Linked DNA regions of Homo sapiens. The protein of the gene in region 1 interacts with the protein of each later gene in a biochemical or structural test. Each region holds a gene or a part of one and is shown on either strand. Other genes may lie near its edges.

Region 1 (7,765 bases):
TCATCACAGCCACCCTCCCCCTTCTGCTTCTCCTGCCTTGGAGACAGGATGGATGGACTAGAAACATGGGCCAGCAAACAGGGATGGACGACAGGAGCACAGGGAAGGATGTGGACAGGGACAGACAGCAACAGAGAACGGCCAGGTGAACTGTGTGCCTATCTACATCCCCGTGCTTGGTCTGGGGCCACAGACTGACACCAGGAGGCCATGAACCCCACCAAGGTCCACGCTGTGAATGTCAGCAGCTCTCATGAGTTTAAGAGGGTTCCTGGCAAAGTCAAGAACCACTGTGGCGATGCTTGAAGGCAGCATGCTCGTTAAGAGTCATCACCACTCCCTAATCTCAAGTACCCAGGGACACAAACACGCAGAAGGCCGCAGGGTCCTCTGCCTAGGAAAACCAGAGACCTCTGTTCACTTGTTTATCTGCTGACCTTCCCTCCACTATTGTCCTGTGACCCTGCCAAATCCCCCTCTGCGAGAAACACCCAAGAATGATCAATAAAAAAAGAAAAGAAAAAAAAAAAAAAAAAAAAAAGAACCACTGTGGCTCCAGGACAAACTCCTAGCTTATCAGGTGCACACATTAAGGCCCGTAGGGAGGATAAAGACCCCCCCAAGTCCCCACAAGTAAGCATACCCACTCCACTGAACTGCCTAAACCTTCTGTGACCTCCCAGAAGCCTGTCTCCAAACCCACTGTGCTCAGAGCACTGAATGCTGCAAACCAGGGTGCTGCAAAGCCCCTCCAAAGAGGCCCCCACCTAGCCTTACCTTGGTGCGCCCGTTGATGACATAGCTGCCCAGCCGCCCTGCGCAGTGGCGGATGACGGCGTCCACATGGGCCATGAGGGCACCAATGCTTCGACAGCCTGGTTCATGGCCTTCCACCCAGGCAATCTGGTCCCCACGGATGCTGCGCGGCGGGATCGCCCTCTGGCTCACTAGCTGCCCGTCTCGCAGGCGCCCACCCCGTTTGAGGGCCTCCACCTCGGCCAGCACGCGACCGCCCAGTGCTGCCCCCAGGAAGCTGTCCTTGACGCAGATGCCGTAGTACCGCATGCAGGGCACGATATAGTCCAGGGCCAGGCGCTCGGGCGCAGAGGGCAGCGCCTCCTCCATCAGCCCAGCACTGGCCTCACCACTGCCACTGCTGCAGCTGCAGCTCATGCCACCCTCCCGCTCTGCCTCCTGGTTCTCTTGCCTGGCCCAGGGCCGTTTGCTGGGTGAAGGGGCATCCCCACCATCCTCGGCCCATTTCCGTTTGGGGGCCTCAGGCCGTGCGCCCTGGGCTGCCAATCGCTGGCACCCCTTGGTGACCAGCGCTGCAGCGCCTTCACTCTGCAGCGGCCGCAGCTCACCACCATCCTGCCCGCCAAAACCGTCCCGAAGAGGGCTGGCAGTGGTAGAGGTGGCTGTGGCTCTGGGGGTCCCACTCCCTGCCGAGGCCTCACTAGGCACTCCTGGACAGTGGTAGGAGGGGAGCAGGGGACAGGGCAGGTAACTCTCCACTCCCATCCTGGCCCGGCCAGGCTCAGGCTCCAAGGGCTCTGACGAAGACCCTGGTAACTGAGGGAGAGCCTGACTTAGGGGCTGCGGCTGGCACGGGCTGTCCATGGCAGCAGTGTCTTCATCCCCCGGGCATGGAGGGCACCGCCCGGGCCCATGGTGCCACCCTCCTCCGCCTCCTCCTCCGCCTCCACTTGATGCAGCTGGGGGCCACCGGGCCTGGCGTGGGGCAGGGTGAGGCAGGGCAGACAGCAAGAGCTCTTCTCGTGCCCTGGGGGTTGCTTGCTGGTCCCCAAGTCCTCTGCGGTCCCTAAGGGCTTGGGAAGGGACCCTTCAGGGTGGCTAGAGAAAGGAAAAAAAAAAAGGGATGTGAGAGAAACTAGAGACAGGCAGGCAGGGGAAAGCCGGGATGGTATGGGCAGGAGTGGGGAAGACGACCAGGACAGACTTGACTATAGAGGCCCCCCAAAACCTGAGGCCAAGTCGGGGAGAGGACCCTGAGAATCTGGAGGTGCGGGAGTCCGCTGACAGATAAGAGGCAGTGATAGGGAGAGGCTGGAGGCCAGGGGCTGGGTAGATGACCCTAAGACAGAGGACTGTGGTGCAGGTTGTGGGACGCGGTAACCAAAGACAGAAGAAGGAGGGCTGGAGTAGAAAAGGGTGGTGTGGAGGAGTGGGAAAGGAGGGGGTTTGGAAAATAGGAGGGACCTGCCTCGGCGTTCCAGAAAGACAACGAGAAACGTGGGGGTTCCAGGGAGAGTCAGGGTGGGGGCGGGGGGGTCAAAAGACAGAGGAAACTGGGGAGTCCAAAAACAAAGAGAACGAGGGGCCCAGAGACAGAAAAATAGACCGGAGGGAAGCTGGGAGGGAGGACCCGGGGCGGAGCGGGACGGTGGGGTCGACCCGAGCCCGACGGGAGGAAGCCGGCCGGGGGCGGACACACGCCCAGACGGAAGGGAGGTCCCGAGACTGACCGACGGGAGGGGCCCTCGGGGAGAGGGTCCGCGGCGACAGAGGAAAGGACGGAGGAGGGTGCACGCACCCGGAGACAGGACGAGAGATAAAGGTGCCCCCATCCAGGGCACCCCAACGCCCCCAACCCGGGGCAGGCCCTGAGGCCCCTTCTGAGCGCAGTAGGCGACAGGGGCAGGGCCTAAGGGCCGCTCGGACCCCCTCCCCTCCCCCTCCACTCGGCCTCCGCCCGGCGCGCGCTCCCCGCCCCCACCCCAACCCCCACAACGGCCGGCACCCAACGTAACCGGCGCGCGTCCCCTCCCCCGCGCCGCACCCACATCCCCCTTCCCGGGGTCGCCCCGGCAGGCCCCGGCGCGCGCCCCCACACCCCGCCCGGTTCGCGCCGGCGCCCCGGCTCCGGCTTAGTCTCCTCCCGCTCCCTTCTCGCCCCGCGACCTCCTCACCGAGCTTTTTCCTCCGGCCCCGGCGCCGCCGTTTGTGCCAGCCGCCCTGCGCCGCACAGCGCGCCATACCCCGCCCCCACCGCGCGCGACGCCCCGCCCCGCCTCGCCCGGTGGGCACGTGACCGCGCCCCGCGGAGGGGACGGCGCCTGCGCAGGCCCGAGCCGCGCGGGGCGGGGCGGAGCGGGGCGAGGAAGTTCGGGACAACCCCCCTACCAAGGAGAAAGGAAACAGCGGTCCGTGGCCTACACGAGGTTCATTTGCATCCTCCGCCCCGCCCCCTTTGCGCGGGAGGGGGAACGCAGTGTGAGGGGCCGGGTCTGGGAGGGGGCGTTTCTTGCATGTTGGAATCAAGTGGCGTCGGCGGGGCGGGGCACGCAAATGATGTGATTTACATGGACAGGCCTACCCGCCCCCCGCCCAGCGCGGGGCACCGAGTTCGGCAGCGCGGTGCGCGTGACTTCATTTACATGGTCAGCTCCTCCTCCTTCTCGCCGTCCAGGAACGGAGGTGAGAGACGGAGAAATGGCTACGCAGTTAGTTGAGAAATGTATGTAAATTCGCACGTCAGTAATTTACATAAGTATCTTTTATAACGGAGGCAAAAAAGTGCGGGTTGCCCTTGAGAAAAGGGAACGCGGACTAGAAGGGATGTGCAAATGTGTATTTTCAAGACCCGCTCCGGCCTGCCCCCTCGGGACGATTGTGGGAATCAGAATAAAGAACCAGGGAAAGTCTGGGCAACGGAGTGAGACCTTATCTTTACACAAAATTAAAAAATGAAACAAAAAAAAATCCACGGAACGCTACACAGAGAAGACATTTGCATGGCCAGCTGGGAACACTTTAGGAGACTAAGGAGATAAGGTCATTTTGAATGCCCTGCCCGCTCCACCATTGCTCTGGAGAGCTGGGACTCAAGGCTCCCGCCGGGTCGGTGAAGGCCGACGTGGAGATGGGAGGGCGACGAGCAACTGGGAGTGTCCTCGGGGCTGCACCAGTCCCCTGCAGGCCACCTGAGGGCGTAGGGCGGTTCGCGTGAGCACAAGGGCATGCATACTGGTATCCACACATGCGTGAGGATTGCACAAAAGCCCGCAGTCCTCAGGGCACACACAGGGTTCATGGCCACACAAGGGTGTTTCTAGTTTAGTTTTGTTTTTGAGATGGGGTCTTACCCTTTTGCCCAGGCTGAAGTGCTGTGGCATGATCATAGTTCACTGCAGGCCCAACCTCCCAACTAAAGTGATCCTCACACCTCAGCCTCCGGAATAGCTGGGACTTCAGGTGTGTACCACGACACCTGGCTAACTTTTTCTGTTTTTTATTTTTGTAGATAGGGTCTCTCTGTGTTGCCCAGGCTATAGTCTCCAACTCCTGGGCTCAAGTGATCCATCTGCCTTGGCCTCCCGAAGTGCTGGGATTACAGGCATGAGCCACCACGCCTGGCCACACATGGGTGTTTAAAAGGAGCCAAATTCACACCAAAACACACACAGACCTCGGGGTACACATGCACAGGCACACACGCAGTAGTGAGTCACTGCCTCTGACTCTCAGGCATCAGACATGCACACACCGGAGGCCCACCTATAGGTCCAAATTCCCATCCCCTGGCCTTGATGTCCCAAACAATACCAGCCTCACCAATACAATGACCAAGGCCACAGAGCAGTTACGGCTGTCAGCATCACACACAACCAGCACACATTATATCCTATAGACATCATCCCATATGCAGGTACTGGAAACATGTACACATGTCACAAACACAGGGACATCAGCGTGTTTACACACGTGAGCTTAGAACACAGATTGTCACAAACTGTCCACACAGTAACAAATTCCCTCCCTCCGCAACAGGCACCTGAGTCATCATGCTTGGTATACCCCACACCACGTCCAATCAGGAAACAAGGCCCCCAAGGCCAGGCCCAGTGGCTCACACCTGTAATTCCAGCACTTTGGGAGGCCAGCGCGGGCGAATCACCTGAGGTTGGGAGTTCGAGACCAACCTTGACCAACATGGAGAAACTCCATCTCTACTAAAAATACAAAATTAGCCAAGTGTGGTGGCACATGCCTGTAATCCCAGCTACTCGGGAGGCTGAGGCAGGAGAATAGCTTGAACCCGGGAGGTGGAGGTTGTGGTGAGCCAAGATCACGCCACTGCACTCCAGCCTGGGCAACAAGAAGGAAACTCCATCTCAACAACAACAACAAAAAAACAGAAACAAGGCCCCCAAACACCATGACACATGATTCTTCCATCAGGGACCTCTTCCATCTCCCTGCCATCTCACAATAATGGAGGCCAAGACACAGGTGTAAACAATGCTTTATGGGGGTAGGGTGGGTGCTGGACAGGCCTCCAGGTAATAAATAACAGGTACTAGCAACAGCAGGGCCAGATGGGGAGTTGGGGACAAATGACCCTGGTCTCAGGCTTTGGGAGCTCTTGGGGTATGGTTAGGGGTTCAGGGGGACAGACGTTAGCCAAGACAGAGGAAGCAGCAGCAGGTACGGGATTCCCCCTTCCCCCGTGGCTCAGTCTTGCCCCAAAGCCAGGCCCCACCAGGCCAGGGAAGGGGGACAGGTGGCAACGTAGCTTCTCCGGGGCCAGGGCAGGTTAGGACACGGCCTCTCAGAGCCTGGGCCTGGGCCCCAGCAGGGCTGGTCCTGGAGAACAGGTGAGCTGAAAGAGAAGGGTGTGGTGACCTGCAGGGTCCCCGGGGTCTGTCCAGCCGGTCTCTATCTCATTTCCAGGTATTTCCTTCCCCTCCTATCTGCATCGGTCTGTCCATACCTTTCTTCTCCCGGTTTCTACATTGTCTGATTTTCCGCCTCTCCCCTGCAGGTAATTTGGGGCTTGTGCTGAGGGTACCTGCATCTCCCTCTTTGTTTGCCTCAGAGAGCTGTCTGAGTCTGTAAAGCCACATTTCAACATCTAAATATCATGAATCTGGATGGACGCAGTGGCTCACGCCTGTAATCCCAGCACTGTGGGAAGCCAAGGCAGGAGGAATGCTTGAGCCCAGGAGTTTGAGACCAGCTTAGGCAACACCACGAAACCCCGTCTCTACAAAAACATACAAACATTAGCCAGGTGTAGTGGCATGCACCAGTAGTCCCAGCTACCTGGGGGGCTGAGGTGGGAACATCGCTTGAGCCTGAGAGGTGGAGATTGCAGTGAGCCAAGATTGTGCCACTGCACTCCAGCCTAGGCAACAGAGTGAGACTGTCTCAAAAAAATAAATAGGCCGGGCGCGGTGGCTCATGCCTGTAATCCCAGCACTTTGGGAGGCCGAGGCGGGCAGATCACCTGAAGTCGGGAGTTCCAGACCAGCCTGACCAACATGGAGAAACCTCATCTCCACTAAAAATACAAAATTAGCCAGGTGTGGTGGCACATGCCTGTAATCCCAGCTACTCAGTAGGCTGAGGCAGGAGAATCTTGTAAACCCAGGAGGCAGAAGTTACGGTGAGCTGACATTGCACTATTGCACTCCAACCTGGGCAACAAGAGCGAAACTCCATCTCAAAATAAATAAATAAATAAATAAATAAATCGGCCAGGCACGGTGGCTCACGCCTGTAATCCCAGCACTTTGGGAGGCCGAGACAGGCAGATCACAAGGTCAGGAGTTCAGACCGCCCTGGCCAATGGTGAAACCCCGTCTCTACTAAAAATACAAAAATTAGCCAGGCGTGGTGGTAGGTGCCTGTAGTCCCAGCTACTTGGGAGGCTGAGGCAGGAGAATCACTTGAACCCAGGAGGCGGAGGTTGCAGTGAGCCAAGATCACACCACTGCACTCCAGCCCGGGCAACAGAGGGACACTCCATCTCAAAAAATTTAAATAAATAAATAAATAAATAAATAAATAAATAAATAAAATGAACCTGCCTTTGTATCTTTCTGTGTCCCTCTATGTTCCTGGATCACCCTGGCTCTAAGTCTCATTTCACTGTTCCCCAAGCTGGGGAGACAACGTTAGGTTAGTGGTTCTCACTTTGGTTGTATATAGCATTACCTGGGAGCTTCCAGAAATCCTGCAACTGGCTGGCTCACATCTTTTTTTTTTTTTTTTTTTTTTGGAGATGGAGCCTCGCTCTATTGCCTGGGCTGAAGTGCAGTGGCGCGATCTAGGCTCACTGCAAGCTCCGCCTCCTGCGTTCACGCCATTCTCCTGCCTCAGCCTCCTGAGTAGCTGGAACTACAGGCACTTGCCACCACGCCTGGCTAATTTTTTTTTTTTTTTTTTTTTTGTATTTTTAGTAGAGACGGGGTTTCACTTGATCTACAGATCAAGCCAGGATGGTCTTCATCTCCTGACCTTGTGATCCGCCTGCCTCAGCCCCCCAAAGTGCTGGGATCACAGGCGTGAGCCACCATGCCCAGCCTGGCACACGTCTTTAATCCCAGCACTTTGGGAGGCCAAGGTGGGAGAAATCGTTTGAGGCCAGGAGTTTGAGACCAGCCTGGGCAACATAGTGAGACCTCATCTCTATTTATCTTTTAATTAAGAAAAAGTCCTGAAACCACTTCAGAATCTCTAGGGTGAGGCCTGGGCATCAGTATCTTTTAAAATTCTCCAGGTCATTCTAATGTGTGTCACTGCCTTGGTGGGGAAATCAGTTTGGTGGGTCTTGACCAATTTTTAAATTCAAACAGAATAGCACAGAACGGCAAATACCAGAGTGCATCATATATAATAAGAATATTCTATTGGTTGGGCAGGCACAGTGGCTCACACCTATAATCCTAGCACTTTGGGAGGCAAGGGCAAGAGAGGATCACTTGGGCCCAGGAGTTCAAGACCAGCCTGGGCAACATAG
Region 2 (7,020 bases), on another chromosome or scaffold:
AGCCCTAATTTCACTCTGCTCCTTCAGTGGTGTCTGTCCCACGGCCTGCTGCATGCCCGGGGAACGTGTCTGCCTCCAGAACCACTGCCTCAGGTGGGGTGCTGAGACCCAAGAAAGAGGAAAGCGTGAGGTGCGGGCTGCAGCACAGGTATGTGGAAGCTTCAGGAAGAGCCTGGGGTTGCTGACCCCCATGCCTCCTGGCAGCAGGGAGGAAAGGCTGAACCACCTGGCACCTATGCTCACATACACAGAACATGCAGAACACACACATACATACAGATGCAAACACAGACTGCCTCAAGATTCAACAGTCTGAAAATCCAGTTTCTGGTCACCACCCTCAGCAGTCCTTTCTTCTTGCCTCTGTGCTATTCTCTTGCCGAGGAGGCAGACCAGGGAGTGGCAGGGGGGACACTCGCAGCACACACACAGGCCCCCATCCCAAGGAGGAAAGGCTTAGGTGGCAGCAGAGAGCCTGGAAGCCCTGCATTCTGCCCCTCCGATGGGAGATGCCCACCCACCTTCCCTTATCTGCAGAGCCTCGTTCCAGTGGCCATTGCCTCCTGCACCTCCTAGCTCAGATCCTTGCTGGGGTCCATGCCTGCCTCCCCAGCTTGACTGCTCCTGTGGACAGTATCAATGGATACCTGCTCACCATCCCTTGCTAACTTCTCTTATTCATGGTCAGAAAAGAGTTTGATATGATTCAACTCTTTTGAAAAGAATATGATTTTCCCTTGATTTCAATATTCAAGGTAATTCGTGGGCTTCACATAACAGGAAGAATAGTGCTGGCTACCTCTTACTGCACATAAATATATACCAGCCCCTGAACTCAACAGCAGAGCCAGAATTTAAGCCAGGGCTGTCTGGTGTTTCTACAGCCTGGACTCTGAAGCACAGAACTATAACCTTCCCCAAACTCTATTGCTGAGGAAATTGCCTTTTAGAACAGGGGCCTGGTATGTTTTTCCATAAACCACGAATTATTTTCAGGCCAAACAAACCTCATGAAGACATATATGTTTCACAAGATACTGTCAAGATGAAGGTGGCCCAGGGTTGAAGGCAGGCATTGGTGCCTGCAGTTGAACCAAGTCCAGTGGGGTGGGCCTACCAGAGCTTTCCAGGCTGTTCTACCTGAAGGAAGTTTTGGCATGTTCTCAGCACCTGCCTGAACTCAGAGTGACACCCCAAAACACATCCACATGAAGAACTGAGGAAGGGGCAAGGCTCCGGGATTCTCAGGGTGGAAAGAGCCCTGGATGGCACCTGATCATGGGAGGGTTCTCCCTAAAGCCCCAGGGAAGGAGCACTCCCTTCTCCACGCAGCAAGCTCATCCTTGCATAGACGGGAGATCCCCTGCCTCTGCCCAGACCGCTTCCCAACTCTCTCTCTCTGAACTTTCTCTTCTCTTCTTCAACAGGCCCTCACCACTGTGGCCGCCTGCTCTTTCTTCTGAAAGTGCTCCTGTCAACAGTGGTACAGTGTTCTGGGGGTCGCCAACCCAGTGTTCAGTGTTCAGTCCTCTTTGGGCAGTCGGTAGTGGTCTGCATTCTTTCCTTCAGTATTCTAGCCTGAGTTTGAGTTTTTTAGCTGTGTCTCAGACCCACCCACTGGGGGGCCTGATCACTGATGTCACAAGGAACTTGTGAGGAGGTTCCCTAAATCCAAGGAGACCTGAGCCCTGTATAGGTGACTTCAAGTCAAGCACCTCCCTGTGCCTGGCACTGTGCAGACGCTGGAAAAAAAGTAGACGTGGGCTTCCCCTGGCATCGAATCCTGGGATGGGGGTGACAGATCCTGGGCACACCCACCTGACACCTTGTGGGCTGACGACAGGCTGTAGTCCTGGTACTGGGTGGCGTAGCACTGTGGGGGGAACCTGCTCTTGCTGTTCTCCCCGGGACTGATGGCAGATGGAGGCTGTGGCAGCGGCAGATGTCTCAGGGGATGGCCCAGGCCCCTCATGGGGTTTTGGGTGAACTTATCTGAAAGACCAAAGTCAGAGAGTGACGGTAGCATTGGCCTGAGGGAGGGGAGAGGCCAGGAAGCCCTAGCATCCCTTTCCTTTATAAAAGGTGCTCAGAGTCACCAGAACTACAGCCAACCTTCAGGACCCTCTGATGGCATCATCTAAGTCAGAGTGGAGATGGAAAAGTTGGGTGTGTGGGACTGCGGGAGAGACAGAGGACATCGCCCCATTCTAACAAGGCTCAGAGAGGCAGGTACGGCCTGTGGTGAATGGAAGAACCAGGATGGGCTCCCGAGCCCCAGTCCTTCCACCAGAACCCCCAGGAGGCCCAGGCCTGTGGCCGCTGCTCACCATTGGGTACATTTGCGCTCAGTGGCTTGTCCGGCATCAAAGGGCAGCTCCCACCCCTGAGGTTCTTCATCCGTTTCCACATCAAATGTGAGGTGCTGCCACCAGGTGGGTCCCCCTGGGAGTAAGAAGGGCAGATGGAAAGGGGAAATGGCCAGAGAACCAGGTCCCCAGACTGGGTGGGTTGGGTGGGCCTGGAACAGGGCTGGCACTTGCTGGCTTGGAAGGGCCACATCCCCACCCCTCTCAGCAGCCCTGGGTTCCCTAAGGGCTATGCTGGCTTGGAAGGGCCACATCCCCACCCCTCTCAGCAGCCCTGGGTTCCCTAAGGGCTATGGAGAGGCCCCTGTGGCCAGTGGGGATGACTCACCCCGCTCAGGTCCTGGAAGGCTTGCTCTTCATACTCCAGCTGTCGCTTCAGCTTCAGCTTGTTGGAGAGGGCTACCATGGCCGGACTCAGCACGTCTGGGCCTCGAGCCCCAAAACCCTTTGCAGACCTGCCAAGCCCGAGAGAGCAGGCTATGAGGGAGTCTGGAGCCACATGCCACTCAGTGCCTTCTCATCTTAGGGGCCCTTCCAGTCCCAATGCTGATGCCTGTGATGACTCAAAGACCCAAAAGGCAGAGTCTCAGAGGCAGGCTGTGCACCTGCAGGCCGAGCTCGAGCTCTGTCTCCTTCCTCAGCTATAAGATGCTGAAGGGCTCAAGCCTCCTGGTCTGGGGGATGGCTGCCTGGCTGGGCAATGTTAGTCCTTAGGAGGGTTTCTTCTGCCCATGTCTCTCCTCTGCCTTTTGCTCCCACTGAAAACTAGTTTGGCTGCTCTATAAAGGGCAAGTACCAGCGGCCCCTGGGAGTGGCAGGTCATGTACCAACCCCTGTGCCTTAGCCCAGTGAGCTCGCAGCTGGTGAAATGAGCATGCTGGGGAGATGGGAAGGCATTTCTGGAGCCTAGGCACAGCTGGGAGAGGCTGCAGTGGCGAGGACCCGGGGGCAGCCAAAAGGCAAGGGGAGGCAGGGGTATCTTTTTGCTGTTTTCAACCAGGGAAAATCATCACTCAATTTTCTGTGTGGCTCAGATGATGAACCGAGATACGAAAGGCACTCTGGTGGTGGTCCGAAGGGAGACACTGAGGTACAGGGCTCTCAACAAGCCACTTCTTTGCCTGCCCTCAGTGGCAGCCCAGATAAAAACCCATCCTACACTAGGCCTCACATGGCTTGAGGTGATTCCCCAAAGTCTGAGCTCAGAGAAGGGCTAAATGGGGTATCAGATGGCTGGGGAGAGGGGCAGGGGCCTCCCTGGGGGTCCAGCTATCTTACTAGTGGGTGCCTCTCGGTTCGGCCCTGCTGGTACAGCTGAGTATCTGCCACTTACCTTGTCTTGAAGGTGGAGACATGGGGTGGAGAGACAGGGGGCCCCAACGGCGCTGCTCCCAAGAACTCTGTGCGCTGATCCCCGACGGCCCACTTTGTGGGCCCAAAATGTAATGGTGGATCTGGGGGCCACTGGGTATTGGATCTGCCCCCCATGGAAGAGAGAGGGGTGCTGGCCTGGCCACAGCACGGTGGCAGGGATGCTTTGCTTCCGGCATCAAAGAAGATGGAGGACATGGGCCGGTGCTCGGGCTCTGTCTTCTTGCTCTCCAGCTGCTGCTGAAACTTGTCCAGGAGGAAGGGACTGTGCGGGGCTACAGGGGCCAGTGGCTGGAAGATGTTTGTCATGGCACTGAAGCAGTGCTGGGGGGTGGACTGTGGGTTCTCCGCCAAGAGCCGCTCCTCGGGGCAGATGGGGCTTAGCTGGAAGTCTTCCCCGTCCATGGGGATATAGGGTGCCAGTGTCTCCAAGTCCAGCTCATTGAAATCCGTCTGAGGGGAGACAGCACCGGCAAAGAGGCAAGGGGGTTGGTACGACCTCACAAACACTATTCCAACTCAGCTCCTGCAGAGCCATTCATCTCAAGCACTGTTTCACAGTGCTGCTCAAACGCCTCCACTGGCTCCCGAGGGCCTATCAGGAAAACCTCAGACTTGGCTGTGTCATGTACACGACCTTGTATCATGTACCAGCCTTCCCCCATGTTTATCCCCTCTTCACCCTGCACATTGAGAAATGTTCTCCTCTCCCCATCCCACCTGTCCGGAGCCCGCCTTCTCTCTTGAAGCCGAGGCAGCCCCTCTTCCACAGAGTCAGCCCTGCCTACTCCAGCCTGTGGTGGTTATCCTTGTCCTACAATGCTTAGGCCTGTGGTGCACACTGTGGCTTTTTTTTGTCCTCTTCTCCCTCCTGTAAGCTGGCACGGGCCTAAGCAAGCAGTAAGTGCCCAGGTCCATCTGTGGACTCTCGCAGAGTAACAGCCTAACAGCCAGACCCCAGGGACAGAGACTTTGGTTCCAATCAGCAGATACTCAGATCATCCCTTAGGGTGGCAGTATCATGACGGACGCATGATACAAGCAGGGGAATACAAGCAGATGCGGAAAACAGTTTCTAACTTCAGAGACTGACACCCTCAGTGGGTGTCAGCTGACTAATGACTGCAATACTAAGCAATCTTTAAGGAGCAGAAGCAGATAGCTGTGATTAAGTGCCACATGATATATACTACAGGAGTGCTGAGGAGGGAGGGTGATAGAAAAGCTAAAATTGGGCATGTTTTGCAGAGTAGCTGGGATTTGTGCCAAGTAGGATCAAGAAACAAACTAAGTGGCAAGGCAGAAATCTGGTTGAACTCAAGACTAAGACAAATGGGGGATTAATGGTTTTCCCTGGGGTTTTGTAAAACACGTACCCCTCCCTCTACCTTATCCTTGTTTACATAGTTTTTGCAAGAACATTGGCCTTATGTAATAAATGTGTTCCTGAAAAGTTTTATGTAAATGAAAAATTGTCAAACAGATGTTATTTATTTTAAAGTGCATTTCATATAAAAATGATTATTTTTTTAAAATCACAAGATGAATGTGTTTATAAAGGGATTAATTGTCCCCTATGTTTATACATGTTTTATACATCTGGCTATGCTTGTTAAATGTAGGGCCTGTTTAAAGAAAGGTGCAGTGGTATCATTTCGGTTTTCATGTGTGCTAAGAAAGCTATCTAAGTAGGAGACACATATGCTGGAAGAGCTGGATTTGACAGTGGGAGGAGGGGGTGACCACAGGCTCCATTACCCTGTACCCCTACCTCTTTAGGGGACCTGGGCCTTGGCCAAACGTCTCCACTGCTCTTTACAACAAAGGGATGAGGCTACAAGAATGGATGTGAGCCTTTGCTGTCCACCAGACAGCAGGCACACACCCTAGCCTGATCTCCACAGCCATCTACCTGGGTACTGCATTGGTCCTTGGCCTCTGTGTCCATGGCGAAGAGCTTCTCAATCACTTCAATCTTCAGGTCGTTATCCAAAGATGTGTAATAGTCTTCAGGGCTATTGGGCTAGGGGCCAGGAAGGAGGGGGACAGAGTCAAAGATATGGCACTGGTCTCCCCAGAAGTCCAGCATGGAAGAAGAAATACCTTCCTGGACCCAAAGGTTCAATTCCATTCCACCACACAACTATTTGTAGAGGGGCTGCTAATTAACAAGCTGTATGAATTAGGTCAATTCATCAACCTCTCTAAATTCCAGTCTCCTCATCATAAAATGAGGCTACTGTCGCTTCACAGGTTGTCCTGTCTTGAGGACCAAACAGGATACAGGCTGTGGCCAGCAGGGCTGTGCAAACTGTGCAGCTCTGTGCCACATACGGGATGTTACTGCCCTGTATGGGGACTGAGCTGGGGGCTCAAAGCCCTTCAAGGAGCTTATTTCAATGGAGTTGGGGGATGAACACTAAAAGGAAGAAAACAGCTCTGATACCTGGTAGGTAAGTGTCACGGCCACTCTAGGGGGCTCTGTGATAACCTGAGAAGGACAGTACCTGTCCCAAATGTCCCTTCAGCCATCTGGCAGCAGTCATACATACGGAGCCCTCTCTGTGTCCTCGCCATAAGAGGGCTGCTCACCGTGGAGCAGCTGCTGCTGCTGCTGGTGGCACTGGGGGTGGTGCTGCCCGGGGCAGCTGCCTGGGGCACGGTGAAGGCAGGCAGGCTCCCAGCCTCGCTCTGGGTGCTGTGGCTCCTCAACTCCGTGGCCCATGGCTGGCTCGGGGGCAGGATGGCCTTGCCATAGGCTGAGGACTCCTCGAAGTTCTGATTCCCTGTGGAGACAAGGGCCTGGGAGGTGAACACCCACAACCATCGGGCTCACCCCAAGGCAGAGGAGGCCCAAAAACCGCAGAGAAGGCCCTAAGAGGGTCTGGAAGGCATGCCTGGGGCTAGGCCCCCCCAACACCCTGGGGCTCAGCTGGAACACATGGGTCTTTGACTCTGGCTATGAGTCAACGTAGAGACTCCCTTTAAACGGAACAGTCTCCTGGGACATTTAATTTTCAGAGACTAAATATATTAGGAGCCACTCTTCCCTGAGGAACAGATCCGGAAGGGTAGACAAGGAAGGTATGAGAGGGAGAGGAGAATTGGGCTATTGAGCTATTTGCCTCAGTACTGCCACAAAACAAGCCGCGAGACCTACTGGCCAAGGGCCCGCTGCGTTTCAGATTCTCTTTAGCTGCAATCCTCACGTGGCCGCTGTAGAACCCATCTAAAAGGGGCTGACACAGTCCAGGGTGAGCACCACTCTTCCGGCAGCCACAGC
Region 3 (7,288 bases), on another chromosome or scaffold:
TTTATACATATGCCTTCATGTACACGTGCGTTTATATATGCAAGATACATTTATAGAAGTGGAAGTGCTAGGATTACATTTATAAAATGTATCAACCTTTTAAAAGTACATGCATCAAAATGTTTGATACATTTTTAAATGACAATTATTGCCAAATTGCTCTGTATCATGTCTGTGTGCGACAATTTACAATCCCGCTAATGATGTATGAAACCATTTGATTCTGTACACCCTTAATGAAACAGTGTGTTCCTTACACTTTTTATGTGTGCCCAACTCTTAGGTCACAGTGGGGTTTCAATATGATCTTAATTTACATTTATCTTTTTATGAGACATGTTGAGAATTTTATCATAGGAACTATTTGTATTTCCTTTTCTGAGAACTATCTGTTCACGACATTTGCCATTATTTTTTCTTGGGCTTGTTATTCTTTTTGTTCTTGATTAATATCTGGTGGGATATTTATTCCTACTTTTTTTTTCATTTGGACTGTTGAATTAGCTTGTTTACTTCTAAAAAAATTCTACTTTCATTGGGCTAAGTTACATTTATGGTTTAATTAAGAAAAACTGACATTTCAATGTCTCTTCCTGTATGAGAACAGGGCATATCTTTCCATTTATTCAAGACATAAAGTGGGTTTAAACAGGTACATTTTTAAAAGATGGCTACTTGTGGAGTCCAAATTGAGAAGGGCAAGAACGAAAGCAGGAAGACCAATTAAGTGGTCCTGCAGTGGCCCAGGAAAGAGATGATAGTGCTTAGGCTAGGGTTGGGGGTGGATAGATTTGAGATCTGTCCTGGAGGAAGCACCAATTAAACTTTCTCATGGATTGGATATGGGAGTAAGACCAAGGGAAGAATAAGGATGATGCCTAGGTTTTCAACTTGAGCCATTGAGGGACTAGTGATGCTGTGAGATACAGGAGACAGAAAGAGATCCTAGAAGAAGGCTTGCTTAGAAGCAAAGTCCCCAAGCCTCAAACTCCAGGGAGGCTGCCCACAGAAGCTCTTTCAGTGGAGACACAACCAACTGGAATCAATCAACTGTAATCACAACCAACCAGGGCCTTCATTAACCCATGTGGTACCTTGGTGTGAATTTAAAAATGGTGGCTTTTCTGGGAAGACAGAGGCCCAAAGGTACACTTGGCAAGGAGTATGCGAGTTGAGTTTTAGCCCCTACTTAGTCTCTTGACTGGGAGCTCCTGTGCTATGAGCAACCTGCAGGACCAGACCTGGAAGCCTTGGAACTAACCTCTGACTGGGGCATCTGACTCATCCACTCCTATACAGTACTACCCTGCTCCTTAAACTTACCCCAAAATGGCCCCTGACTCTAGTGTTCTGCTACTCAGGTAGATCCTCACCTCTACCTGTTTAGAGATCTGCCAGTTACAGTGAATCTGACTGCTGCCTGCTTACGCATTTCGGCAGTTGCCTTGCCTCTCCTAAACCTTGAATATGGTGCATAGAATAAAATATAAGCCTTAAGTCATCTTGGTTACCATAAATCTCAGAATGATGCTTTTTCGATACTTATGCAATTCCTATTGCCCAATTTGAAAATGTCCTGGTTCATTTGAAAACAGTCCAGTTAGCTGCATAGAGCAGCAAGCTGTAAATTGTATCTGAAAGACCGCTGGCTTCAAACCATTGGGATTCTGAGTCATCTGTTTGGTGGTCTGACTTTGATCCCAGCCTCCAGCCTCTGGGTCCCCCTGGTCTAGGTGACACCTCTCCAAACAGTGTTGAGCTTACTCCTCAAAGGCAGAGGACAGAAGCGGATTCTGAAAAACTCTGCGTTCAGTCTGACATTCCCTGTTCTTTTCCCGCACCTTCCCCATGAAATAGCAGACTCGAAAATAAAATTTACTCATGCCCTCATGACTGACTGACTACCCCCAACCCAGGGGGTTCTCCCGTCCTTAATCTCCTCCATTTTAGTTATACCATGGGGACTTCAGGTAGGCTGCAGGAGTAGATGCTGGCCCACATTTCCATCAGTCCTTGCTAGGGACAGTGTTACACTGCTTGGTAATTGATAAATCCCCACTCTGGGTGCACAGTCCCCTCTCCCCAACTGAGCTAAGATGTGGGCTATTGATGCTTTCATGCCCAGCCCAACCATGAATCAGTTGACTTCCAGTCAATCATTCCTCCTCGTACCCACCAGGAACAACACTAACAACTGAGGCAAGAATGCAAAGCCACAACCTAAAAGAAAACAGACACATTGTTCCATCTGATCTACTGACAGCTAAGACAGTCACTCCATGGAGTACACAGGAGATTCGCAGGCTGCTGCCAGGGCTCATTCTGTTCTTGTCTTTCCTATGACTTTACTCAGGATTCCATTATCAGCAACTTCACCCTCCAGCTCTCTCCATCCTCCTATGAAAGCCTCAGGGACATAGAAATAAGCTTGTCTTTGTAAAATGTGCCAGGATCTCCGTCTTAGATAAAAGACGACTATGAGAAAAGAAATTATTTCATTCCACTATGTTCCATTTGATTTCTGCTTTCAAGCAATAAACCACCATGGCTTGAGATGCTTCTAGTGTTTCATGGAGAATTGGGACTATTTCCCCAACATGCCCTGCTCTTCATTCCTCTTTGCTTCTTCCCTTTTTGACTCCTTGGACCCGAGGGGCGACCATGAGTGGCGAAATTTCTGACCAGCTAGAATACCAGGCAGGTGCAGGCTCTTGAAGCACCAAGACTGGCTCAAGAGATTGTAAATGGATCAGTCAAGTGCATGCACCACTGACGGCCAGTCAGGAGAGCTTCCATTTGTTAAAAATATAAAGGACATTCCTATCATCAAGCATCACAATTAGGCAATCTCAAAGAAAACAATATTAGCTCTACTTGGCCTATGTTACATGCTCTAAGAAAGTATTTTAGAAAAGTTTTTTTTTTCAACATAAATTTATTGAAGGATCAAACGTGTTCTCTTTCTTGGTCTCTTTAGCTCGTAAAGTCGTTTTGGGGATTTCGTGAATCTGGCAAATAAAACAAAACACCAATGAAACGCTGAGAAATGATTATTTCCCTTATGTATTTTAGCGGCCTCCAGGCAGACCTGATAAATATTCAGCGAGTGATTAGCTGGTGCATCCCCACCTGCGTCCTTTGCATAGCCATGCCCGCTACTCTTTCACAGGCAGTTTTACTTGGTAAGTTACAAACGTACTGGCTGCACTCTGCACCTGACAGTATTGCAGTAATTAGCTTGGGATGCAAAATGATTTCTAAATTAAGGTCCTGGACTTGTAAAATCAAGAAAGCCTGATAATCAACATCGTCGCTCTGGTGGCCATTGAATAACGGGATAAATACCTAAGACAAGTCCTTTAACCATCCCACGTGGTGATAAATGCCCGACGTACAAATTAAAAGTCTCTACCACACGCAGGTGAAATAAGGTATAGGTCAAGAAGAGAAGGTAGGGGAAAGGGTCAATGCTTAATTATTTAAAAATCGCTCTCTTCCTCCTGTAGGAAGGTCTAGGGGCTAGGTCTTTTAGTGCACACGTGATGAAAGTGACATTTTGGCCAGGTGAAACCTCAAGCTGGTACAGGCAGCTAAAACACGGGCGTCGTGCCCTGGAGACACCGGGGGTCCTGAGGATGGGGAAGGGGCTCCCTGCTGCGGGTGCTGAGGGGTTAGGAGGTGAGCACCGGGCGGGAGGCTCCGGGGCAGGGGCTGCGCGTGGAGCCCACTCCCGGACGCGGGCTCCTCTCGGCCCGGCACGGGTGGCGCAGGACTCCGAGCCCGTCGACAAGAGAGAGAGCGGGAGTGGGAGAAGGAAGACCGGGAGAGGAGGAGGCCGGGCGGCAAGAGCGGAAGAAGAGGAGGAGAACTGAGGCGGAGGAGGGCGAGAGGGAGGAGAGCCGGGCGCAGGAAGGGGAGGAAAGAAAAAGGCGGCGGAGGAGCGCGGACCCGCCACTCCCGGCCTCCTCCCCCGCATCCCCACTCGGGCCGGCCCTCCCCCGGCCGCCGCCGCCGCCGCCGCCGCCGCCGCCGCCGCCGCCGCCGCCTCCCCTTGCCCAGTGTTCCCAGCACCGCAAGGCACTCGCTGCCTCCTCCGCACTCGGTCCGGTCCGCTCAGCGCCGCCGCCGCCGCACCCTCGCCGCACCCCCGCGCGCGCCCGGCCCGCGCGCCCCCGCCGCTCGTCCTCGCGGCCTCGCGCTCGGGGCATGCGCGGTGGGCGGTGCCGCTCCGGGCCGCCTCTGCCGCCGCGAGTAGGAAGCGCGAGCGCCGGGCACCGGGCTGTCAGTGAGCCTGGGGCCAGCGGGCGAGCCAGCGGCTCCGGCTCCCGCTCCCGCTCCGCGCAGCACCAGCCCGACTCTCCCCGGCCCCCGCCGCGCCCCCTCGCCGCGACCTCGGCCACCGGCCCGCGCCCCGCGCCCGGGGTCGCCCCGAGCCCGCACCTCTCCCCCGCCGCCCCCGCCCACCCGGCCCTCCGCGGCCGCAGCTCCCCGGCGGAGGCAAGAGGTGGTTGGGGGGGACCATGGCTGACGTTTTCCCGGGCAACGACTCCACGGCGTCTCAGGACGTGGCCAACCGCTTCGCCCGCAAAGGGGCGCTGAGGCAGAAGAACGTGCACGAGGTGAAGGACCACAAATTCATCGCGCGCTTCTTCAAGCAGCCCACCTTCTGCAGCCACTGCACCGACTTCATCTGGTAGGTGCCGGGCCGGGCACTCCTGCCCCGCTCCTCCCCGCCTCCGGGTCCCGGCACCCGGCGCTCCGGCGCGTCCGCCCCGGGGCTGGCTCACTCCGATAACTTGGAACCGGCGGGAGTCCGAACTCTTCGCCCGGAGTGACACGCGCGCCCGGCCCTGACACCGGCGGGCAGGACTCCCGGGACGTCGCCGTCCCGCCACACACACCCCCTGGCGCGAGAGGGAGGCTGGCCCCGTACGGTGGCGAAGGGGATCCCTCTCCGGGCCGGGCCCCTCACCTCCCCGGGCGCGCCCACCCGCACGCACCCAGCGGAGCGGCCGCTTGCCGGGGTGTGAGCCCAGGGGACAGGGGAGGAGGAGAGGCCCTAAGGGGGCAAAGGTTCCCGGAGAAACGCGCCCCGGAGTAACGGGGGAGCGGCGGCGATTGCACTGCGCGCGGTCCAAGTTGCTGGCGAGCCAGGCTGGGCGCGTTCGGGGTGGGGGGGTTGTGTTTGTGCTTCCCATCGGGCTGGACTGCGCTGGCATCTTGGGCCCCTGCCTACTGTAGGCTGCATCTACTGGGCACGGAGAGACTGACTTTTCTGAGTGAGCAGAGAGAGAGAGAGCAAACTGTTGAAAGCTTGCAGTGGGGGAGGGGGAGTTCTAGCAGGCAAATGGCACAAGGGCAGAGGGACTCATTTAAAATAGACCCTGTCGGCCAGGCGCGGTGGCTCACGCCTGTAATCCCAGCACTTTGGGAGGCCGAGGCAGGCGGATCACCTAAGGTCAGTAGTTCGAGACCAGCCTGGCAAACATGGTGAAACCCCGTCTACTAAAAATACAAAATTAGCCGGGCGTGGTGGCACACGCCTGTAATCCCAGCTACTCGGGAGGCTGAGACGGGAGACTCGCTTGAACCCGGGAGGCGGAGGCTGCAGTGAGCCGAGATCGGGCCACTGCACTCCAGCCTGGGTGAGACAGAGCGAGATTCCGTCTCAAAAAAAATGAAACAGACCCTGTCAACTCGAGATTAGACCTGTAACCCTGTTGATGAGGGCAGAGGCCTTATTTAAGAAAAATAATATAAGGGCCAGAGGTCAGAGATCAGGTAATCGCCAATGAATTCAGGCATTCTTAACTCGGAGGGTCCCTGGGGGCTTATGGAGAATCGATACATAGAAGGGCTTCAGGGGTCTCTGAACCCTGTAAAACTGAGGGAAATTGTGTTTGTGAATCTTTTTCCTGGTGAGAGAATTACAGCTTTCATCTGATCCTCAAAAGGTGTGTGACCCTTCTTCCCAGATCCCCGTCACCACACAAAAGTTTTGAAAGCTGGAACTAAAGGAGCTCTAGGTCCTCTAGTTAGAGCAGCAGTAGTTTGGTTTTTCTTTTAAGTTGCCCGACGTCCTGACTCTTCTACCTCTTCTTTGTGGTGTAGGAAGTTCCGGGCAAGACAGAGCTATGGCTAGGGCTTCTTAGCTCCCTCTCCTTCTAGGCCAGGGGGAGCTGCACAGGGTGGCAGTCACGGAGTGAATCCTGCCACCAGCCAGCTGTGTGGCACAGGTATCTTGGGCCACTAGGGTGAGCATAGTATGGATGGCTCTGTCGGAATCCATCACACCTGGGGAAAAACATCCCAAAGGGCAGGTCCCATGATCGTGGTGCGAATAAGGTGTTTAATTTTTCCTTTCCTTTTTAGACATCTGCTCCCAAGTACACTTTTATGAAAAGCACAGCCACCTCTATGAGTGATTTCCACTGTCTAGTCGGCATATGAAGCGACTGTGCTCAAAGGAGTAGGTAGTCGTAGATAAGGCTATTTAAAATAAAAATTTCGGAGCATCAGGGCAAAGAGAATATTGCATTTGGTTAAGAGGAGGTCAGCTGTGAGAGTCCATTAAAAGGGAACAGACTGCTGGTGACTTTTGCAGGAAGTAGGAGAGTTAGAAAGGGACTTGCAGCATACTGAGGCTAGCTATTGTCTTTCCACTATCAGTTGCCCTTGAAGGATCAGCCCCTGGTGAGCTGAAGAGGCGCTCAGGTCACCACCAGTATTGTGAAGTGGAAAATGCCCCCCTGAGGATCCCTGCAGCACTCTGCATTTAATTGTAAACCAACCAATTGGAAGTCCCAGGAAACCATCCACGGGGATTGTCTTTTTCAGTTTGCTTTCATTATTGCTTCTACGGGGTCCTTGATTTACACGTTTATTTCAATATTAAATCACTGATATTTTTAAGCGAAATGTTTAGAGTTAGATATGGTTTTTAGTAGGGGGGATGACTCTAAGTTAATTTTAAAAGTATGTGAAATACTTTGTACATGAAACATTCTATGTGAAGCAAGAGATTATGACTCTCAACCTTCCGAAGAAATTTTAATGCAGTTCATTCTGGTAGAACAATACCTGCAATTGAACGTCCACGTCAGGGTTCTCTGCTTACAGAGTAAATTCTCTAAAGTCATGTACAAGAACAAAATAGCCTCCCTATGTGCTTTGAATGCTATTGGTTCTCAGTAGAAATTAGATCGTGGTCATCTCAAATGCAAACAATAGGAATTATATTTTCTAAGATCTGGTTTCTTAAGCCAACATTAAATGTTAAAAGTGATGC
Region 4 (7,320 bases), on another chromosome or scaffold:
CTGTGGAAGGCTAGAGCTGACCAGAGTTGGTAATTTCCCTTCCTCCAGATTGGTTAGCCTTTGGTAGATTCATCTGGTTAGGCTCTGATAGAGAGTTTCCCTTGAGGCCAGGTCTTGTTAAGAAGAACAGAGAGCCCTGAGAGTATTTCACGATGGTTACTTACCCCTTCTCCCTGGCAAAAGCAAAGCAGATTTTTCTCAGATCTTTACAGTGAGAATCTGACAGGATTCACAGAGGTAAAACTGAGGTAAGTATTGAGGCCCCTCTCAGACTGAGCCTCCTTGGAGTTTTTTAACTCTCAAGCTAGTCTGCACTGAGCCTCCAGCAATTCCCCAATTACAGTTTAGTGTTCCTACTGATGTTGGCTCCAGCTGTGAAACTAGCTTCAGCTTCTGGCTTCTGTGCCTGGGCTCTGCTCCTGGTAAACTGTGATTCTCTGAAAAGCTGTGATTCTCTGTATCTATCTGTCTGTCTCTCTAGTTTTTAGGGCAGTGGTTTTTCCTGTGACCTCAATTCTCTGGTGGATCTAAGAAGAGTTACTGATTTCAGTTTGCTTAGCTTTTTTTTTTCTTGTTGTGAGGATGGGAGTGACAACTTCCAAGCTCTTTACATGTTGAACAGGAAACTGAAAGCCCCTTGGTGTTCCTTTGTAAATTCATCTTAAAAATATTTATCATAATTGAAAAGTGCTAATATCAAATTTTCAGTCTGTTTATATTCCCCCTAAACTCAGATAAATATACATTTTATTTTGTGTGTCTGTGTGTGTGGGTTTTGTTGTTGTTTGTTTTTTGTGTTTTTTTTTAAGATATAGGGTCTTGCTCTGTCAAGGCTGGAGTGCAGTGGCACAATCGTACATCTCTGCAGCCTCGAACTCCTGGGAGAAAGTGATCCTCCCGCTTTAGCCTTCAGAGTAGCTACGACTACAGGCACTAACCACCAAGCCCAGCTAATTTTTAAAATTTTTTGTAGAGATGGGAGTTTCACTTTGTTGCCCAGGCTGGTCTCAAACTCTTGGCCTCAAGTGATCCTCCTGCCTCAGCCTCCCAAAATGTTGGAATCACAGATACTTTGTGTCTTGATTCTTGAAAGGAAAAAACAAAGATTTTTAATGCCTCTTATCTTGTACGCACTTTCCTTCCAAACAATACCCTTTTGCTGCCATTGTTCTCGTTATGAATAGCTTAAAGAAAAAGAAACAACTAAGGGTAGTAATAGGCCAGGAATCACTTACTGAATACTAGGTCTTCTTGTATAGTTTGATACCCTATAAATTGTGTGCATCTGATGCATTTCACCTTCAAAAGGCTCAATGCTCTGTATTATTTAGTAGTAATCAAAATTTCAAGTTTTACTTAACCTCCTGATTCACTGCCCAATTTCCTAATAAATACGGGCTAAGGGTCAATGGGGTCATTTGCAAGTAATCTTGTAGTCTACTCAGAAAGTTCTGCAAAGTTAGAAAGTGATTAAATGACTGTTTGTTAAGATATACTTACATAGTAATAACCTAAATGCATTTGTTAAGTGGTTGTAGAGAGAGGGATTTAAAATTTTATCCTATATGAAATTTTCCTTTTTGGTGTCTGTTATTTAATAGGATTGTTTGAATTAGGGGATACTATTTGGTGCCTTTGTAACTATATGAAAATTAGTTGGTTGAATATTACTGCTTTCCATGTTCATATTTATATTTGTATAGACATATATATATATACACATATACTACTTTCCTTTCCATTTTCATATTTATATTTGTGTATACACATATACATAAACATATATTTTATACATTTTTGAAAAGGAAAATTAACTTAAGGGCATATTTAATGAATATTCAAAAATTTTTTTGCTGATCAAATTATCATTCTGCTTTAAACTTTTGAAATGATCCAAAAAAATTTTAAATGACTTAGATTTACTGTTACAAAATGCTTGTCTTTTGATGTCACAAACATTATATACTATAATCACTGGCCAGAGATAATTGCTATAAGTATAATGAAAAGGGAAATGATGGAAGATCTCTGCAGCTATCCTCATAAATGAGGGTGGGAACACGATGGGCAGTTCCAAAGTTGAAAATAGAGAATATATGTGGATTTATATTAACATAATTGGTATTCTTGGATAGTTAAAAATGGCTAAACTGTAGGAGAAGCCCGAGTAATTACTGTTAACAGAGGAATAAATTTGAGGGCAATAATAATGATGATAGGCCAGGCACTGTGGCTCATGCCTGTAATCCCAGCACTTTGGGAACCCGAGGCGAGCGGACCACCTGAGGTCAGGAGTTCGAGAGCAGCCTGGCCAACATGGTGAAACCTCGTCTCTACTAAAAATAGAAAAATTATCCGAGTGTGGTGGTGCGTGCCTGTAATCCCAGCTACTTGGGAGGCTGAGGCAGGAGAATCACTTGTACCTGGGAGGCGGAGTTGCAGTGAGCCGAAATCGCGCCACTGCGCTCCAGCCTGTGGGCCAGAGCGAGACTCCGCCTCAGAATAATAATAATGATAATAATAATAACGCCACCAACAATACTAAGAGCTAACATTTACTGAGTGCTTACTATGCACCAGATATTGTTCTAAGTATACATTTATTATCTCATTTAACCATCCATAATACTGTGGTATAGACACTTTTATATCCATTTTATAAATAAGTAAACTGAGTTATGGAGAGATTAAACGACTTGCCAGTAAGATTCAAAGCCTGTGTACAAGCTCACGCTTGATTCTGGAGCCAGTGTTCTTAACACAGTATCTTGAGAATGTTAAACTAAAAAGTTTTTAATTTACAGTATTCTTTCCACAATTAAAAAAGAAATTATGAGTAATTATTTTTAGTTCTTTCTTCTCTTCAGGCATTTCCCATGGTTCTTTTCAAGACATAATACATATCATTTAGTGTTGTAGATCTGAAAAAACAAAAGTAGCGTGAAGATCAAAAATTTTCTAAAGAGACGGAGTCTCGCTACGTTCCCTAGGCTGGAACACCCAGGCTTCTCCAGCCTCACACCTCTGAGTAGCTGGAACCACCCTGTCCGCTAAGGTCAATGTTTAATCGTATCTTTGTAGGTCTACTGACCAGTTAAAAAGAGGTGCTGTATACATTGGTTGTTGTCTTGTCAGAGTTTGATGCTTCTATATAGACCATTGTTTTTACATGCTAATACAATTGAAAGCCACTACAGATATTTATATTTACAACCCAAAGCTAGGTTTTAACAAGAAACTCATAAGGCAAAGGTGAGAAGTAAAATAATTTAGCGCCAAGTGGAGATATATGTGCAATGCTACTTTGTTGGGCTCAAAACATATTTTTCTTTTAGAAGACTGACAGGCTTGAAGTTTATGCCTCCAAAGACAAAAGTGATTATGTTTTGTTTAGTAGCTTGCAAAGTTGCCAAAGGCCATTTTTTCTACTCTTTCCCTGAAATTGGTTTATATGCTTATTAAAGTCATTTATACCTATTTGCAAATGCTTAACATAGTTTCAGATTTTAAGATTTCCCTGCAACTTTATTTCCCTTGAAGTTTACAGCAACAGGAGTTCATTTTTATTTTTAATTGCATTTATTCAGTAAGTAAACTCCGCCACAGAAAAACTTAGTAGACAAGGTGAGTTCCCCTGTGCTCCGTGGCAAAGAGTGCGGTGGGTGACATTGACCCATGGTTAGGTAATCTGGTAAGGAAAGACCCCGTTGTAACACATCTGAGCAACGAGACCAAAGGAAGGGCTTGCTGCCACGAGGCGAAGTCTGCTTTTTTGAACAGAGAGCCCAGCAGAGTTGGGCGGCAATCGTGCCCAGCACTGAGGCCGAGGAGAAAGAGAGCAGGAGCATTACATTACTGCACCAAGAGTAGGAAAATATGATGCATGTTTGGGACCAGGCAACCGAAATCCCTTCTCAGCAGCGCCTCCCAAAGCCGGGCACCGCCTTCCTTCGGAGAAGGCGCAGAGTCCCCAGACTCGGGCTGAGCCGCACCCCCATCTCCTTTCTCTTTCCTCCGCCGCTAAACACAGACGAGCACGTGAGCGTCGCAGCCCGTCCCAGCTGTGCCTCAGCTGACCGCCTCCTGATTGGCTGAGAGCGGCGTGGGCTGGGGTGGGGACTTGCCGCCTGCGTCGCTCGCCATTGGATCTCGAGGAACCCGCCTCCACCTCAGGTGAGGCGGGCTTGCGGGAGCGCGCGCCGGCCTGGGCAGGCGAGCGGGCGCGCTCCCGCCCCCTCTCCCCTCCCCGCGCGCCCGAGCGCGCCTCCGCCCTTGCCCGCCCCCTGACGCTGCCTCAGCTCCTCAGTGCACAGTGCTGCCTCGTCTGAGGGGACAGGAGGATCACCCTCTTCGTCGCTTCGGCCAGTGTGTCGGGCTGGGCCCTGACAAGCCACCTGAGGAGAGGCTCGGAGCCGGGCCCGGACCCCGGCGATTGCCGCCCGCTTCTCTCTAGTCTCACGAGGGGTTTCCCGCCTCGCACCCCCACCTCTGGACTTGCCTTTCCTTCTCTTCTCCGCGTGTGGAGGGAGCCAGCGCTTAGGCCGGAGCGAGCCTGGGGGCCGCCCGCCGTGAAGACATCGCGGGGACCGATTCACCATGGAGGGCGCCGGCGGCGCGAACGACAAGAAAAAGTAAGCCCATTCCCTCGGCCCGCCGCCTTCTCCCCCGGCGACCCCGCCCGCCTGCCCGCCCTGGGCTCCTGGGCCGGCCTCGGCGTTAATGGGATTGGGGGGGGCAGCCTTTTTGTTTCTGCTGCTGCTCCCCTCCCCTCTCTTCCCCCAACCTCGCCGGCCGGGCTCCCCCGCTGTCCACGTCGCCATCTTGTCGTGGGGGGTGGGAGACGCCTCGAAAGTGCTTTCAGGGGCCGGGGTCTGAGCCCTGCTTGCCCTCCCCGCCGGCCGTGGGGGCCTCGCGCCGCCCACCTACCCGCCTCAAAAACCCAGCCTGCTCTGTGGCCCCATCCGGAGGGGACTTTACCCAGCCTGAAAACCCCGGGAAGAGAAATGAGCTGCAGCTCGGTAGCCGCGGTTTGCACCCGGAGCTTCCGCTCCTTCCCGCCCCCATCCTCTCCAGTTCCATTGAAAACTCGGCCCTGGGGCGGACCCTGCACGCTGGTCCTGGCTTTCCAGTGGACTTGGGGCCTTGAGTTCCCGACTGAGGGACTCGCGTGGTCGGATGCGATCTTGTCCTGTAGTTGTCCAGCCGTCGCGGGTGTCTTTGCCTTTGTGCATTAGGGATTTGCCGCGATGGCCTTAAGATGCGAACTTTTTAGTTTGCACGTGCAGGTTTTGTTTCGTTTTAATCGCCTTGAAAAACTTGCCTAGACTGAGAGTCAGAGTAATGGGAATTTAGGGAAATGGCAACATTTTAAAGAGAACTTCAGAATTGGATACTTGAGTTCATATCACCTGTCACGAGAACGCAGATATTATAAATGAATATATGCCTCATTCATTCTTCAAATAATGAAAATGTAGGGGCTGGTTAAATTTAGGCAGTTTTAATGATACTGAAAAAAGTATATGATGAGTGAATGAAATGCGGCACTAAAATGTTGCAAAAATTTTCGAACTCTGTCTCATTTTCCTGAAATTGAAGTATATTAAAGGAAAACCGTCAACATATATCTAAAGTAAGTAATCACTCGGTTAGAACTTAATGCAAGTTTTATAAATCACCTTGAAGTTTGAGTCTAAGGGGTACATTAGAGATTAAGAATTGTGAGTTGGACCAGTGGTGTTAAGAGCGGACTCCCCCATCCCCCAACACACACACAATTTTGCCCACTTTGGCATTTTAACTTTTAAGGAAATCACTTAAGGAATTGAAGATTTAGAGTAAGAGTTTTGGTTAGTAGACTGGCTTTGCTGTTAAATCCTTCCACTCTTCTGGCAGAGAGATTAATTTCCCTAATCAGTATCAGCAGAAGATAAACTTGTTTATATTCCTGCTGTTTTGTAGATCCCTTCTCCTGGTCCTTCTTCAATAGAATATTAAATTCTTAGTTTGTATACAGCAGAGAAGGTCACTTATAAAATTCAAAAAGTGAGCAAACAGGTCTAGATTAATTCCAAGAGTTACCAGGAATTAATTGCAGTTTATTTTGCGGAGGTGATTACAGTGCTTTTGATGAAATGATAAAGCTGCTATATTGTAAACCTAAGGCAGATTACCTCTGTGTAGTGCCAGTTTTCTATCCTTATTATATATTGAATCATACTTAATACAATGCATTAAATTATGTACCACTTTTTTTATATACAGTATCGAACTCATTGTTTTGCCATTCATCCGTTCAGAATATCAGAAGCAGTTTTGAAACGAATTAATAAATTAGCTACTGTTCATCAGCCCCAATTCTAAATAAGCTCTTAGATTTTCCTCAGCCCATCTGTTACTTTCAAAATTTTCTCATTTGAAAACTTGGCAACCTTGGATTGGATGGATTCATATTTCTTAGTATAGAAGTTCTTGATATAACTGAAAAATTAAGTTAAACACTTAATAAGTGGTGGTTACTCAGCACTTTTAGATGCTGTTTATAATAGATGACCTTTTCTAACTAATTTACAGTTTTTTGAAAGATAACTGAGAGGTTGAGGGACGGAGATTTTCTTCAAGCAATTTTTTTTTTCATTTTAAATGAGCTCCCAATGTCGGAGTTTGGAAAACAAATTTGTCTTTTTAAAAGAAGGTCTAGGAAACTCAAAACCTGAAGAATTGGAAGAAATCAGAATAGAAAATGGGTATGGTTATGATACTGTAGATTTAACGCAGGACATTTCATGTTGTTCCTAGTTATAGGGGCTGAACTTATTTAATAGCACGTGCATTTTGATTTTTAGATTTTTAAGGGAATGTCAAGAGAGTAATGATTCTGTTTCAGGCTTCAGGCCAGACTCCTTCAGAGTTTTCCAAAACAAATAATTACTGAATCATTAAAGTAAAATTTCTGAGAATAGATATTCCTTAATTTCCTTCATTAACTTTGGCCATTAAAAGTCAAGAAGCTCTCTCATTTATTAGCAAACTTTTCTCCTTATGATTCTATTTTGATTGTCCTTTTGTTTGAGGAAGCAGCATATGGTGGTTAAGAGCATAGGATCTAGAGGCAGATACCTCTGAGTTAAGGGTCCCAGCCCTTCACTTGTGAGCTTGAGCAAGTTACTGAATGCCTCTGAGCCTCTTTCCTCCTTTTGAAATGATGATAAGAATAGCAGCCATCTGAGCAGTTATTGTAAAGGTTAAATGAGATAATGCTTGTGAAGCACTTAGCCCATTGCAGGAGTCTTGATGACACTGTGTACTTGAAAATAGATG

What was found.
Region 2: the proteins of EGLN2 (region 1) and EPAS1 form a complex in vitro, tested with the Homo sapiens proteins (one study listed by BioGRID).
Region 3: of the proteins of EGLN2 (region 1) and PRKCA, one has a biochemical effect on the other in vitro, tested with the Homo sapiens proteins (one study listed by BioGRID).
Region 4: the proteins of EGLN2 (region 1) and HIF1A form a complex in vitro, tested with the Homo sapiens proteins (3 studies listed by BioGRID, with this or other methods).

The regions. Positions count from the first base shown.
Region 1 is NC_000019.10:40,794,428-40,802,192, reverse strand, and holds the start of EGLN2 (prolyl hydroxylase EGLN2), read right to left. Parts: upstream 3,003-7,765; 5' UTR 2,931-3,002; intron 2,672-2,930; exon of another isoform or gene 2,555-2,671; intron 1,855-2,554; 5' UTR 1,621-1,854; coding exon 778-1,620; intron 1-777. UniProt on the Homo sapiens protein: Prolyl hydroxylase that mediates hydroxylation of proline residues in target proteins, such as ATF4, IKBKB, CEP192 and HIF1A. Target proteins are preferentially recognized via a LXXLAP motif.
Region 2 is NC_000002.12:46,377,397-46,384,416, reverse strand, and holds part of EPAS1 (endothelial PAS domain-containing protein 1), read right to left. Parts: intron 6,524-7,020; coding exon 6,330-6,523; intron 5,761-6,329; coding exon 5,650-5,760; intron 4,191-5,649; coding exon 3,700-4,190; intron 2,822-3,699; coding exon 2,695-2,821; intron 2,443-2,694; coding exon 2,328-2,442; intron 1,993-2,327; coding exon 1,819-1,992; intron 1-1,818.
Region 3 is NC_000017.11:66,298,332-66,305,619, forward strand, and holds the start of PRKCA (protein kinase C alpha type), read left to right. Parts: upstream 1-4,281; 5' UTR 4,282-4,520; coding exon 4,521-4,693; intron 4,694-7,288. UniProt on the Homo sapiens protein: Calcium-activated, phospholipid- and diacylglycerol (DAG)-dependent serine/threonine-protein kinase that is involved in positive and negative regulation of cell proliferation, apoptosis, differentiation, migration and adhesion, tumorigenesis, cardiac hypertrophy, angiogenesis, platelet function and inflammation, by directly phosphorylating targets such as RAF1, BCL2, CSPG4, TNNT2/CTNT, or activating signaling cascade involving MAPK1/3 (ERK1/2) and RAP1GAP.
Region 4 is NC_000014.9:61,691,209-61,698,528, forward strand, and holds the start of HIF1A (hypoxia-inducible factor 1-alpha), read left to right. Parts: upstream 1-4,304; 5' UTR 4,305-4,596; coding exon 4,597-4,631; intron 4,632-6,503; exon of another isoform or gene 6,504-6,642; coding exon of another isoform or gene 6,643-6,746; intron 6,747-7,320.